Linked DNA regions of Homo sapiens: region 2 is linked to region 1. A link means that fine-mapping ties the variant in region 1 to the expression of a gene that starts in the linked region. Tissue or cell type: whole blood. Region 1 holds a variant in brackets; the other region holds the start of a gene. All regions are shown on one strand. Distances are from middle to middle.

What was found. PIP is the estimated chance that this variant, and not a neighbour inherited with it, causes the effect.
Region 2: SLC35F2 starts here. The variant in region 1 is fine-mapped to the expression of SLC35F2 in whole blood (INTERVAL, PIP above 0.99). The same link has a PIP of 0.9 or more in fibroblasts and lymphoblastoid cells.

Annotation. Positions count from the first base shown.
Region 1 is chr11:107,789,203-107,796,974 of GRCh38, forward strand. SLC35F2 (solute carrier family 35 member F2) reads right to left here. Exons shown (of 8, transcript NM_017515.5): 8 at 1,789-3,598. The coding sequence ends at 3,413. Among named protein-coding and RNA genes, the nearest start is that of SLC35F2, 66 kb to the right of the region's middle. RefSeq lists a silencer at 1,373-1,582. The variant A/G (reference allele first, on the strand shown) is at 2,862.
Region 2 is chr11:107,854,819-107,862,590 of GRCh38, forward strand. SLC35F2 (solute carrier family 35 member F2) reads right to left here and starts at 3,969. Exons shown (of 8, transcript NM_017515.5): 1 at 3,840-3,969. The coding sequence starts at 3,949. It overlaps LOC124902746 (a long non-coding RNA gene), which reads left to right and starts at 4,412. Exons shown (of 2, transcript XR_007062876.1): 1 at 4,412-4,836; 2 at 4,928-6,171. RefSeq lists an enhancer at 3,495-3,564 and a silencer at 3,785-4,094.

The DNA of each region.
Region 1 (7,772 bases):
TCAGCATGTTAACCCAGCTGGTCTCCAACTCGTAGCCTCAAGTAATCTGCCTGCCTCAGTTTCCCAAAGTGCTGAGAAACAGGACTAGCTGGATTTCCTTGGCTAAGAATTCCTAAGCCTAGCTGGGGAAGGTGACCTCACCCACCTTTAAACACAGGGCTAGTAACTCAGCTCACACCCAATCAGGTAGTAAAAAGGGCTCACTAAAATACAAATTAGGCTAAAAGTAGGCAGTAAAGAAATAGTCAAATCATATATCGCCTGAGAGCATGGGGAGGGGACAATGATCGGGATATAAACCCAGGCATTCGAACCGGATCGGGCAACCCCCTTTGGGTCCCCTCCCATTGTATGGGAGCTCTGTTTTCACTCTATTAAATCTTGCAGCTACACTTCTTGTCCGTGTTTGTTACGGCTCCAGCCGAGCCGTCCACCACTGCTGTTTGCTGCCGTTGCAGACCCACCATTGACTTCCACCCCTCCGGATCTGGCAGAGTGTCCACTGTGCTCCTGATCCAGCGAGGCGCCCATTGCTGCTCCTGATCAGGCTAAAGGCTCGCCATTGTTTCTGCATGACTAAGTGCCCAGGTTCATCCTAATCGAACTGAACACTAGTTGCTGGTTTCCACGGTTCTCTTCCGTGACCCACGGCTTCTAATAGAGCTTAACACTCACCACATGGCCCAAGGTTCCATTCCTTGGAATCCACTGAGGCCAAGAACCCCAGGTCAGAGAACAAAAGGCTTGCTGCCATCTTGGGTGTGGCCTGCCCCATCTTGGGAGCGGCCCACCACCATCTTGGGAGCTCTAAGAACAAAGACCTGCACGTAACAGTGCTGGGATTACAGGCTTGAGCCAGTGCACCCGGCCTACTTCCTTTTTCTAAAGTCCATCCTGGTGTATATGTATCCTAAACACCCAAATATGTAACCAAAGACTTTGTGAATGACCCTGCTCACCAAACAGCAACCTTGCAGGATCAGCAACTGCAGTTCTGACTGCGGCTGTCGCTGGTGTAAATAAAATGAAACAATGAGCAAAATAGCACAAATTTAAAACTAAACCATCAGTGTGCTAATCAAACTGAAAGTCTTCCTAAAAGAGCCAAACATTTTAACATAACCTTTCCCACTCTCATAGTTGTTAATGTTAGGGAGCAAAAACCAAACATCGATTGAAAAGGCAGTTTTAATTGGTTGCAGAAAATGAAAGGTTACTTCACTCAAAAAAGTAAAAAAAAACTCATTGTGGTAATTCAGAATTGGAAAATGTTTATTCCTGCAAATGATCGGTAAGCTTGCTCTGAATTCCCTGGAATCCCAGCATAGTCCCCAAATAGACAGGCTTGCCTCACCCCACAGAGGATACGACTCTGAAAAATTGAATATGAAGAAATACTGAATATGTCAAGTCATTCAAAATCCACAAGGAGGCCAGGCGTGGTGGCTCATGCCTGTAATCCCAGCACTTTGGGAGGCTGAGGTGGGTGGATCACTTGAGGTCAGTTCGAGACCAGCCTGGCCAACATGGTGATACCCTACTAAAAATACAAAAATTAGCTGGGCATGGTGGTGCATACCTGTAGTCCAGGTAGGAGAATTGCTGAACCCAGGAGGCAGAGGTTGCAGTGAGCTGAGATGGCACCACTGCACTCCAGCCTGGGCGACAGGACAAGACTCAAACAAAAAAAAAAGAAGAAAAAAAAATCCACAAGGGTTTTGAAGGACGGCTTTACTGGAAAAAAAATCCACAAGGGGAAATGGTTAATCAAAGAAACCACACAGTTGATGTATTTCCATGAATTCAAAGCCTTTTAATGATGTGAACACTTACTCCCCATTTCTTTTTTACATTGTTACAAAAAATTTACATACAGTTTTCTGAAAGTGGCATTTTGTTGGTTGTTATTATACTGATGACACATATTAACACTTTGTATTGAAGAAGTATCATAAAAATCACAGGGCATTACAGATTTTTGATAAGAAGTAGTAATAGCATTGTCTTTTAACAGCTGGAGGCTCCCAGGCATACTCTTTGGTGAGAAATGATTAATTTTATATTTTCATTTTGATGAGAATCTTTTCTTGTTTTTACCAGTTATAAAAACAAAGCTTTTTCTTTGTTGTGATACTGTGCACTAAGACTTAGTTTCTTGAGCTGATGCTAAATAAAATGAGATCAATAGGAATATTCCAGGAGGTCGTGAGAAGTTTTTAGAAAGGATGGCATCTACATATATATGGAGCTCTGAAAACTGTTGGAGAGTATGACCTGGGACTGAAACTGTGGAGCACATAGCCAGTGTCACAGGCTCCGAGAGCAGAGAGAGTTTGCTCTGGGACCTGGAATGAGTGATGGAGAAATGTTTTAAACAAACAAACAAACAGGCCAGGCACAGTGGTTCACATCTGTAATCCTAGCACTTTCGGAGGCCGAGGTGGGCAGATCGCTTTAGCTCAGGAATTTGAGATTAGCCTGGGCAACATGGCGAAACCCCATCTCTCTACAAAAACAAACAAAACAGGCCTGGCACGGTGGCTCAAGCCTGTAATCCCAGCACTTTGGGAGGTCGGGGCAGGCAGATCACTTGAGGTCGGGAGGTCAAGACCAGCCTGGGCAACATGGTGAAACCCCATGTCTACTAAAAATACAAAACTTAGCTGGGCGTGGGGCCACATGCTTTTGTAATCCCAGCTACTAACACTTGAATCCAGGAGGCAGAGGTTACAGTAAGCTGAGCTTGCACCACTGCACTCTAGACTCTGCATCTCAAACAAACAAAAAAACAATTGTGGGAAGGTTCCTAGGTTTACTGCACTCCAGTTTAATGCTTGTATAGTACTCACACTTATATCTCA[A/G]GACTTTTCAAGGGCTGACCCACCCGTTTTCTGCCACATGCAGTCAGCCCCAAGGCCTCATCTGTACCCAAAGGCCTGTGGACAATAACTGCCTCAGCAAAAAAAAAAAAAAAAAAAAACCTTGAAGCATCTGACAGAGGAAACGTACTCCAGAGCCACCGTGAGCTGCCCCTGTTCCTGACCACCAAGCCCAGCCTGGACAGCCTGCTTTCCCGCCCTGGCCTGAGGCTGGCTCAGTCCTGGATCTCTCCCCAGTCCTGCTTTCCCACTGGTGCCTCTAAGACCCCAGTGTGGAGTCTGCACCTCATCTCCTCAACACGAACAGATATTGGTCCTCAAACACAGAAACACACTCTTAGCTTGGTTTCTGCTCTATTTTGGTATTTCTACTTTTGAACTTTGTTCAGTGTTCCTTTCTAAAACCTAACCACTGGATCCAACCCAGGGTTGTAGAGTGTCCATTCTGAGTCTGCTATTTCCCCAAGTGTCCCCTCAGCAGGCAGCAGGCTCTGCTTTATCCTGGTGGGGGATGGGTGCGCCATCTTCTCCAGCTACAAGACAGCAGAGTGGGTCTCCTGGAGGTTCTCCTCCAGCTTCAGCCCCAGGTTGTCAATCCCAATGCTGGTGACTGGAGGCACGCTGCTTTCAGCCGGCTCGGCCGTGCGAGTAGGGGTGGAGCAGTACAGGATAAACCCCACCATGATGACAGTGAAGGACAGGATGTAGAGTCCTGAAAACTAGAAGGGAAGAACAGGCAGTGAATTGTGCCCCTCACATACACATCTTTGCTGCTGGCTTTTGCCAACTGTGCTTCGAGGATTACCCTCTCATAATCTTTTTATTTTCTTTCTTTCTTTCTTTCTTTCTTTTTAAGACAGGGTCTCGCTCTGTGGCCCAGGCTGGAGTGCAGTGGCACAATCTCGGCTCACTGCAACCTCCACCTCCCAGGCTCCAGTGATCCTCCCGCCTCAACCTCCAGAGTAGCTGACACCACAGGCACTCACCACCACACCCGGCCAATTTTTGTGTTTTCTGTAGAGACGGGGTTTTTCCATGTTGCCCAGGATGGTCTCGAACACCTGAGCTCAAGCAATCCGCCCGCCTCAGGCTCCCAAAGTGCGGGGGATTACAGGCGTGGGCCGCCATGCCTGGCCTCATGATCTTTTTTCTGAAAGTTACCTAAGGAGATGCTAATGCACAAAACCTTCCCATGTATGCTGGTGAATGATGGGACTCTGCCAACAGCACCCGGCACATAAGCCACCTGGATCCTTGGATCTTTAGGAGAAATGGACCTTTGCTTTTCTCTGTCATAATCCAGCTACACCCCACTCTGCATATAGTCCCACTTAGTGGAGAAAATAAAAGGTCATCATGGATACCACAGAGAGCCCCATTCAGACCCTAGACACTGCTTACAATATTGGTATGAAGCAGAGGAACGTAAGACTATGATGAAATGTGGAAGTACAGAAGGGGCATCTGCTCAACAGCCTCTCAATGTGTGCTATTCAATGAAATTCATTTTGCTAAAATTTAATACATTATCTTGTCTCTGTGGGCAAGTATTACATAGTAAAATTTATGGTGGACTGAGCAGATTCAGAATTGTAGAGCTAGAAAGAGCCTAAGATACTAGAAGAGTCCAAAGCCCAAAGAGGTGACTGAGTGTAAGGTCCGGTGAGGACAATCATAGGAAACAGAGCCCTGTGAGAGGCATCTCATACACTCTCTGTTCCCAGAAGGACCAAAAAGAGCAGGAGCCCATTCTGACAGAAATTTTAAAAGTATGGATGGAGTTTTTGGTGACCTTCCCCAACTTTCCCCTTCCTAAGACTGAAAACCACCACCCAGAGCAAAATGCAATGAGGAAAGAACACTAATTCATTGGGTATATATATGGAAAAATGATATACCCCAAAAGTCTAAATAAATTCTATTAAGAATTTTGTATATTTCCTCTTGAGTTGAAAATCCATACAAAAGTTGAAGTATTAAAGAAATCAGTCTGTATTTTTTCTTTTTTTTTTTTTTTTAGACAGAGTTTTGCTCTGTCTCCCAGGCTGGAGTGCAATGGCGCAATCTTGGCTCACTGCAACCTCTGCCTCCCGGGTTCAAGCGATTCTTCTGCCTCAGCCTCCCGAGTAGCTGGGACTACAAGCATGCACCACCATGCCTGGCTAATTTTTGTATATTTGGTAGAGACGGGGTTTCACCATGTTGGCCAGGCTGGTCTCGAACACCAGACCTTGTGATCCGCTCGCCTTGGCCTCCCAAAGTGCTGGGATTACAGGCGTGAGCTACCACGCCTGGCCATCAGTATGTATGTTTAGCAGCATGATAAAGCACAGAAAGAGAGTGGCTAAAGACTGACCAAGAATGGTGTACTAAAAATTAGAGAAACTATGTACTGTAACTAATGTGTAATCAAATACCCAGGGCCTTATTTTTCCTTTCAACTGGAAAAGCAAACTCAACTTATGATTAATCCTGCTAACCTGATTTTAAAATTAGGAATGGAGTAGCTAACATCATACTGAATGGGGAAAATATAAAAGCCTTACTTTTAAGAACTGGAAAAAAACAAGGATGCCCACTTTCACCACTCCTATTCAACATAGTACTGGAAGTCCTAGCCAGAGCAATTAGGCAAGAAAAAGAAATAAGAGGCATCCAAATTAGAAAAGAAGAAGTTAAATTATCCCTCTCTGTAGATGACATGATCTTATATCCAGAAAAACCTAAAGATGCCACAAAATAGCTCTTAGATCTGATCAATAAATTAGGTAAAGTTGTAGGATACAAAATCAACATATAAAAATCAGTAGCCTTTCTATACACTAATAATGAACTAGCTGAGATAGAAACCAAGAAGGCAATCCCATTTACAACAGCTACACAAAATAAAATAGGACTAAATTTAACCAAGGAGGTGAAAGACCTCTATAAGGAAAGCTACAAAACCCTGATGAAAGAAATTGAAGATGACACAAATGGAAACACCCATGCTTATGGACTGGAAGGATTAATCTCATTAAAATGAGCATACTGCCCAAAGCAATCTATAAATTCAGTGCAATCCCTATCAAAATATCAATGTTATTTTTCACATAAACAGAAAACACAATCCTAAAATTCATATGGAACCACAAAAGGGCCCAAATAGCCAAAGCAATGCTGGGCAACCAAAACAGCATGGTATTAGTATAAAATGAAAATGAACTCCTATCTCTCACCATATAAAAAAATCAACTCAAGGTGGGATTAAAGACTTAAATATAAGACCCAAAACTATAAAGCTACTAGAAGAAAACACAGGGAAACACTTTAGGACATTGGTCTAGACAAAGATTTTATGGCTAACATCTCAAAAGCACAGGTAACAAAAACAAAAATAGACAAATGGGACTATATTAAACTAAAAAGTTTCTGCACAGCAAAGAAGACAATCAACAGAGTGAAAAGATAACCTCCTGAATGGGAGAAAATATCTGCAAACTATTAATCCAACAAGGGACTAATAACCAGAGTATACAAGTAACTCAAATGACTAAAGAGTGAAAAACAAATAATCCTATTAAAAAGTGGGCGAAGGACATGAATAAACATTCACCAAAAGAAGACATAAATGGCCAACAGGTATATGAAAAAATGTTCAACATCACTAATCATCAGGAAAGTGCAAATCAAAGCCACAATAAGATATCATCTTACCTCAGTTAGAATGGCTATTATTAAAAAGTCAAAAAATAACATGCTGGCAAGGATGTATAGAAAAGGAACTCTTAGGCCAGGTGCGGTGGCCCACGCCTGTAATCCTAGCACTTTGGGAGGCTGAGGCGGGTGGATCACCTGAGGTCAAGAGTTCGAGACCAGCCTGGCCAAGATGGTGAAACCTCATCTCTACTAAAAATACAAAAACTAGCTGGGTGTGGTGGTGGCACCTATCCAGCTACTCGGGAGGCTGAGGCAGGAGAATCACTTGAACCCAGGAGGCGGAGGTTGCAGTGAGCCGAGATCATGCCACTGCACTCCAGCCTGGGCAACAGAGCAAAAACTCCATCTCAAGAAAAGAAAAAGAAAAGGGAACTCTTAAATACTGCTGGTGGGAATGTAAATTAGTATAGTAGAGCCACTATGGAAAACAGTACGGAGATTCTCAAAAAACTAAAAATAGAACTACTATACAATCCAGCAATCCCACTACTGGGTATTTATCCAAAGGAAAAGAAATCAGTATATCAAAGGGAGATACCTGCACTCATCTGTTTATTGCAGCACTATTCACAATAGCAAAGATATGGAATCAACCTAACTGTCCGTCAGTGGACAAATGAATAACGAAAATATGATATATAAACACAATGGGATACTATTCAGCCACAAAAAAATGAAATCCTATTATTTGCAGCAACATGGATGGAACTAGAGGTCATTATGTTAAATGAAATAAGCTAGGGCACAGAAAGACAAATAGTGCATGTTTCACTCATATGTGAGAGCTTAAAAAGTCAATCTTGTGGAGGTAGAGCATAGAATGACAGATATCAGAGGCTGTGGAGGATGTGTGGATTGGGGGTGGGAGATAAAGAGAGGTTAGGTTTTTGTAGTGGTGGTTGTTTTGAGACAGGGTCTGGCTCTGTCACCCAGGCTGGAGTGCAGTAGTTCAATTTCAGCTCACTGCAACCTGTGCCTCCCAGGCTCAAGCAATCCTCCCACCTCAGCCTCCCAATTAGCTGGGACTACAGGTGTGCACCAACATACCCGTATAATTTTTGTATTTTTTTTTTGTAGAGACAGGGTTGTGCCATGTTGCCCAGGCTGGTCTCAAACTCTTGAGCTCAAGCAATCTGTGTGTCTTGGCCTCCCAAAGTGGTGGGATTACAGGCGTGAGCCACCATGCCCAGCCTA
Region 2 (7,772 bases), 66 kb after region 1:
GCCCCTTTTTGGTAAAAGGAATAGAAATGAGCTATGTGGTTATAAATCTCTCTCTGTATCTTGCCCATATGGTGATAACACATCATATCCATTCACCAACCTCTTTCTACACTCTCCCACCCTTGGTTCCCTGGCCACAGGTGGGGATTCACAAAGCTACTCAAACTTGGGACATGAGTTTTGACAACAAAGCTTAAAATATTGAGTATTAGGAGTACTGGATATCTGGTAAACCACTCTTTTCTGATTGCTGGGTCTGATAAAGAGAAACTGCAATCCAAAATCCAAGTGCTTGGATGGCTGCCAGAGGTAGGAATGGAAACTTTAATTAACAAAAGAGCCCAGCCAACCAAACAAGAAGCTCAGCCCAAGACCCTTGGAATAAAGACCAATAAAGGGAAGAGTTCAGGGAGGGAGGCAGAATGGAAAGGAAGACTTGTGAACCTTTGTCATCCCTCAGTCATTCACTCATTCATTCATTCATGTGCTAAGGGTTGTGGTAGATATAAAAAAGAAAAAGACACCATTTTTGCTGTTAAAGAACTTCGTCCATGGCCAGGCGTGTGGCTCACACCTGTAATCCCAGCACTTTGGGAGGCCGAGGCGGGCGGATCACCTGAGGTTGGGAGTTCGAGAACAGCCTGACCAACATGGAGAAGCCCCATCTCTACAAAAAATACAAAATTAGCCAGGTGTGGTGGTGCATGCCTGTAATCCCAGCTACTTGGCAGGCTGAGGTAGAAGAAGAGCTTGAACCCGGGAGGCGGAGGTTGCGGTGAGCCGAGATCGCGCCATTGAACTCCAGCCTGGGCAACAACAGTGAAACTCTGTCTAAAAAAAAAAAATGCCCATAACTGCTATTCCACAAGAAAGGAAAAAGCCCTCAAAGAGATACATAAAAAGGACATTCATAGACAAAAGAAATCTCATATTTAGGAGGCTACTAGACTGATTATAAAACATACCCGGATTCCAAAAGTATCAGAACATTAGGAGAGAAAAAAAAAAATCAGGCCAGGCACGGTGGCTTACGCTTATAATCCCAGCACTTTTGGAGGCTGAGGTAGATGGATCACCTGAGGTCAGGAGCTCAAGACCAGCCTGGCCAACATGGTGAAATCCTGTCTGTATTAAAAATTAGCCGGGCATGGTGGCAGGCGCCTGTAATCCTAGCTACTCAGGAGGCTGAGGCAGGAGAATCACTTGAACCCGGGAGGCAGAGGTTGCAGTGAGCCATGATCGTGCCGCTGCACTCCAGCCTGGGCAACAAGAGCAAAACTCTGTCTCAAAAAAAAAAAAAAAAAAGAAGAAGAAGAAAAGAAAAGAAAATCATTGTTAATTCTTATCACATCTTGTTAAACATACATCTTGCCATATCATCTGCCCCAGCCTCAAGGCCACTGGCATCTCCTGAAGCAATCACCAAATGTTCCCATCACCCAAGAATAGAGAGCTAATGGTGACAACTAACCCATATAGAGCACTGAAAGGAGCCAGGCTCTGTCTGCCCTTTCCTGCATAGTAACCTTGTAACAGCACTACAAGGTAGGTACTGTTATTATCTCCATTTTACAAATAAGAAAACTGGAGCACAGGCTGGGCGCGGTGGCTCACGCCTGTAATCCCACTACTTTGGGAGGCGGAGGTGGGTGCATCACTTGAGGTCAGGAGTTCAAGACCAGCCTGGTCAACATGGGGAAACCCCATCTCTACTAAAAGCATGAAAAAATTAGCCTGGCGTGGTGGTATACATCTGTAATCCCAGCTACTTCGGAGGCTGAGGCAGGATAATCGCTTGAACCCGAAAGGTTGAGGTTGCAGTTAGCTGAGATAGAGCCTCTGCACTCAGGCCTGGGTGACAGAATGAGACTCTGTCAGGAAGGAAGGTGACAGAATGAGACTCCGTCAGGAGGGAGGGAGGGAGGGAGAGAAAAGAGGGAGGGAGACTGGAGCACAGAGAAGTTAAGTGACTTGTCCAAGAAGGGAGGGAGGGAGGGAGAGAGGGAGACCGGAGCACAGAGAAGTGACTTGTCCAGGAAGGAAGGAAGGAAGGCAGGAAGGAAGGAAGGGAGGGAGGGAAGGAAGGAAGGGAGGGAGGGAGGGAGGGAAAAGAGGGAAGGAGACTGGAGCACAGAGAAGTTAAGTGACTTGTCCAAGAAGGAAGGGAGGGAGGGAGACTGAAGCACAGAGAAGTGACTTGTCCAGGAAGGAAGGAAGGCAGGAAGGAAGGGAGGGGCGGAGGGAGGGAACTGGAGCACAGAGAACTGATTTGTCCAAGGTCACCCAGCAGAAGGAAGGGAGGAAGGAAGGGAGGAAGGAAGGGAGGGAGGGAGACTGGAGCACAGAGAAGTTAAGTGACTTGTCCAAGACGGACGGACACGGACGGAAGGAAGGAACAAAGAAGGAGGGAGGGAGGGAGGGAGGGAACTGGAGTACAGATAACTGACTTGTGGAAGGAAGGACGGAAGGAAGGAGAGAGGGAACGAAGGAAGGAGAGAGGGAAGGAAGGAAGGAAGGAGAGAGAGGGAAGGAAGGAAGGAGAGAGGGAGAGAGGGAGGGAAGGGAGGGAACTGGAGCACAGAGAACTGACTTGTCCAAGGTCACCCAGCCAGGATTTGAGTCCAGAATGTGAGTGCCCTTAGCCATTACACTGAATTGCCTCCCAGCTGAGAACTTTTAACAAATGTATCAGGACATACACAACTGGATGCTACAAGGTGGTTTTCGGCCAACTTTCCCCTTTAAACACATGCATCAATTTCAAACTATTTATATGATAAAAAATGCTTACACCTTTATCGATCTCGTTTTTAAAATGGTATGGCTTTTCAGGACTATCTTTCACAATCGTTAAAGGGAAATTCGCTTTGTTAATATGAAAAAAAAATCAAATATCTGTTTCATGAGTTGTCAGTGGCCAACGCTGTTTAGACTACGGCTTGAACGCATCACCCCTTAAAGATCATCTTGTGGCCTTGGGCAAATTGCTTAGCCTTCTTTGTTTCTCCAGCGGCAAAGTGGATATAACAATAGTACCATCTCCTAAAGTGGTGAGGATTAGCTGATATTATCCATATAAATTGTTATGCACAGTACCTGACACAGAGCGAGTGCCCAATAAATGTCTTTCACTATTTAGGTCCTGGGTTCTCTCATTTCCAGAGTGCAAGTCCTCCAGCAACCACAGAAACGCTTTCTAGAGTCGCTGCCCACTCCTTAAAAACATTTGTCCCTACTTCGCACAGAGCATAGTGATACCACAAACAGGCTTCCCTGGACCCCAGCCCTGGGGGTGGCTATATCACCTCGCTCAGGCCCAGGAAGAGAGAGCCGGCTCTGGTCTCCCACCCGGCAGCAGCACAAAACTTAACCAGGATTTCTCACTTCGGTCAACTCTTGAATCACCGCGCCCAGTCTGGCTGGCTCGGCAGCAGATGGAATGAGGGCGCCGGCGCCAGGAAGTGGCGCTCACCCACCTGCCCAGCCCGAGGTGGGCACTCCTCCTTCACAGCATCCCCGGGGACCTCGTCCCTCCACCGCGGAACGCCCCAGAGGACCGACCTAATAGTGCCACAGGGTGGGTTTCCCCCCAAATCCTCCAAAATACATCGCCACGATTTCGAAACGGGAGCCGAGGGAGACGCACCAAGTGCTTCCCGACGCCAGGTGAAGCGCACCATACCTGGTGTGCGTGTTGAGCCCCGAACCGAAGTCCGTGCGGCCGCCACCTCTGCCTCCCTGCTGGGGGCCTCAGAGAGTGTGCTCCTTGTCCACGTGCGCGCAGGGCCCGCAGCCGCCCCCACGCCCCAGCGGAGCTGCAGCACGCCCCTTCCACTCACCAGGTGAAGAGTTTGCCTTTTATCCTGCGCAGCAGGCTGGAGAACTCGGCCGCCGCTCCCTCCGCGAGGGGCTCTGGGGCGCCGGGGCCCGCTGGCGAGTCTGCCTCCATCGGCGCCCTTGCGCGTCTCCGGCGCCCAAAACCCCCGAAGTGCCGGGTCCCGGAAGACGGGAGGCGGTGCCTGTGCGGCCGGCTGGGGCTCCGCTCTGGCCCTGCGCTCCCTCCCTCGCTCGCTTGCTCGCGTCCCTCTCGCTCCTCCGCTCGGCTCCTTCAGCGACCAATCATTAACTGTCAAGCCCTAAGGGCCAGACAATACATTTGCAGATTACAACCTGGCACCTCCAGGGTGGCAGGAGGAGAAAGGGCAATTTTTTTTTCGTCTTGGCAGCCGAGCCTTATTGTTGAGCGGCACCCAGTGTGCCTTCAGGTTTTTAGGGTTCCTTGTTTGAAATCACAAGATACAGTGACACGAGGTTATTGTAGGTGATTCCTAAGCTAAGAAGCGGTGAGTGAGCAGTGAGTTAGAAGCAGTGAGTGAGCCGGGACTCTCCTAACTGGAAGGACTGGCTGACCCCTCCTCTTCCCTCCCACTCTCCCTCCCTCTGGCTGATTTGTACAAAATCGCTTCATTAAAATAACTGAAGGCTGGCAGGGCGCGTTGGCTCACACCTGTAATCCCAACGCTTTGGGAGGCCGAGACGGGTGGATCACCTGAGGTCAGGAGTTCGAGACCAGACTGGGAAATATGGTGAAACCCCGTCTCTACTAAAAATACAAAAATTAGCCGGGCGTGGTGACGGGTGCCTGTAGTCCCAGCTACTCGAGAGGCTGAGGCAGGAGAATCGCTTGAACCCAGGAGGCGGCGGTTGTGAGCCAAGATCGCGCCTTTGCACTCCAGCCTGGGCAACAGAGGGAGACGTCGTCTTAAAAAAAAAAAAAAAAAAAAAAAAAACCTGAAGGCGCTTCAGGTCTGTGTCGCTTTTCCCTGCAAAACATGGGTAAGATCCTAAAAAGATCTTGGAAACGTGCCTTTGTGGCGTGGATGGAGGCGTGGCTCATTCCTCGCGGTGTGTTGGTTTTGTCTTTCAGTATTCAGTTGTCTCCGCCGTGCCAGGGAGAGAGACGGTGCCAACCCCCGGCGCTCGGCTTGGATGCCCTGCCCTGGCCACGCCTTCCGAGGCTTCCACGGGCTAAAGAGGGATTAAGAGACACTAAGCTGGGGTCGAAAAGTTCCTGTCACTGACCCCCTGCTTCCGGAAAGGAGGAGATCCAGAAAACAAAAGAAAAGGTGTTGGGACCTTTTATTTTTTCCTGGCCACCTGCTTTGGGGGTTGGGGTGGGTCAAAATAAACGTAGGTTCAAATAGACAGGCTGTGCAGACGAGCTGGCAATTCTGTAAGAGGAGTCTAAGAAAAAAAACAGCTTTCGAAAATGAAATATTACTTCAGGAACCCCAAGTTTAGCAGCTGCAGGAACCTCAAAAAAACCTTTGAAACTAAGAACGTGGTCATCCGTAGAGACTAATTAAGTATTATAATACAAGCATATTATGAAACAAGAGGACATTAGAAGCACATTTAAGATGTCACTTTTGTAAAGTAAACAACTCATTTAACCCTGCATATTGACAACGTTGAATTCTACCTGAGCCCTGTGCTCCTGGAAAGTAATGACAATTAAGAAACCTTCCTAGGCCGGGCGCGGTGGCTGACGCCTGTAATCCCAGTGCTTTGGGAGACCGAAGCGGGCGGATTACTCCTGAGGTCAGGAGTTCGAGACCAGCCTGACCAACATGGCGAAATCCCGTCTCTACTAAAACTACAAAAATTAGCCCGGCGTTTTGGTGTGTGCCTGTAATCCCAGCTACTTGGGAGGCTAAGGCAGGAGAACCACTTGAACCCGGGAGGCAGAGGTTGCAGTGAGCCAAAATCGTGCCACTGCACTTCAGCCTGGGCAACAGAGTAAGACTGTCTCAAAAAAAAAAGAAAGAAAGAGAGAAAGAGAGAAAGAAAGAAAGAGAAAAGAAAAGAAGCCTCCCACCTTTTTTTTTTTAATCAAAGATTTTGGTTGAATTTCTCTTCCTCCCTCATACCTCTGAACTTTCACCCACCCTGACCCTGAGCCGCAGGTAACCCCTCCTTAATAGCCCCTCCTGAGAAGTTGGCCTCAGGGTGAAACATTCTCTAATCTATTATCCAGTGGAGAGCCACCTTTTCATTCCACTTCCCACCAGTAGGGAATAGGCCCCCTCCTACTGCAGGAACCCTTCCCCACAGTCCCCACCCATCCCCATTTGCAATAATCCCTACAAATAAAGTCTCTCCTTAACCAAATTTGATTTTTTATTTGCAATATATACAGTAGTCACCTCCTTACCTGAGGTTTTGATTTCCACGGTTTTAGTTACCACAGCCAATTACCCTCTGAAAATAGGTGACTAGAGTATAGTAAGATATTTTGAGAGAGAGACCACATTCACATAACTTTTATTACAGTATATTGTTATAATTGTTCTATTTTATTATGAGTTGTTAATTTCTTACTGTGCCAATTTTATAAATTAAATTTTATTATAGGTATGTGTAGGAAAAAAGTATATACTGTATAGGGCTAAATACTCTCTGCAGTTTCAGACACCCACCGGGGGTCTTGAAACATAAGGGAGGACTACTATGTTTGATTATGTGAGTATGAAGAAAAATAGAAGATACACGTCAACACCAGTAACTTTAAAAGAGGGTGGGGGGCCAGGCACAGTAGCTCACACCTGTAATCCCAACACTTCAGGAGGCTGAGGCAGGAGGATTGTTTGAGCTCAGGAGTTTCAGACCAGCCTGGGGCTACATAGTGAGACAGTCTTTTAAAACACACACACAGACACACACACACACCCCCCAAAAAAAAACTCCGGCACGTATAATAGAGTCCCCCCGCTTTTATTTTTTTTTTCAGACGGAGTCTCTCTTTGTCAGGCTGGAATACAGTGGTGCGATCTCAGCTCACTGCAACCTCCAACTCCCTGGTTCAAGCAATTCTCCTGCCTCAGCCCCCCAAGTAGATGGGACTACAGGCATGTGCCCATGCCCGGCTAATTCTTGTATTTTTAGTAGAGACAGGAGTTCACCATGTTGGCCAGGTTGGTCTCGATCTCCTGACCTCGTGATTCACCTGCCTCGGCCTCCCAAAGTGCCAGGATTACAGGTGTGAGCCACCACGCCCGCCAATAGAGTCCCTGTTATGTCAAATGTATGCCTTTGTATAAATACATGAAATTAAAAGATGAATTTAGACATTGTAGCAAGCTGAATAATGTCCCCCAAAATATCCAGGTCCTAATCCCTAGAACCTGTGAATGTTGCCTTGAGTGGCAAAATGGACTTTGCAGATGTGATTAAGTTACACACCGTGAGATGGAGAGATTATCCTGTGGGCCATAATGTAATCACAGTGTCATAGGAGGGAAACAGAGGCCAGGCATGGAGGCTCACACCTGTAATCCCAGCACTTTGGAAGGCTGAAGCGGGTGGATCACGAGGTCAGGAGTTCGAGACCAGTTTTGCCACCATGGCGAAACCCCCATCTCTACTAAAAATACAAAAATTATCCAGGCATGGTGGTGCACGCCTGTAATCCCAGCTACTCAGGAGGCTGAGGCAGGAGAATCACTTGAATGCAGGAGGCAGAGGTTGCAGTGAGTTGAGATCGTGCCATTGCACTCCAGCCTGGGTGACATAGCAAGACTGTGTCCCCACCACCACCACCACCAAAAAAAGGAGGGAAACAGAAAGAAAAGAAAGTGATATAATGTAAGCAGAGGTTGAAGTGATGCGCTTTACTCAGGAGGCTGAGGCAGGAGAATCACTTGAACGCGGGAGGCAGAGGTTGCAGTGAGTTGAGATCGTGCCATTGCACTCCAGCCTGGGTGACATAGCAA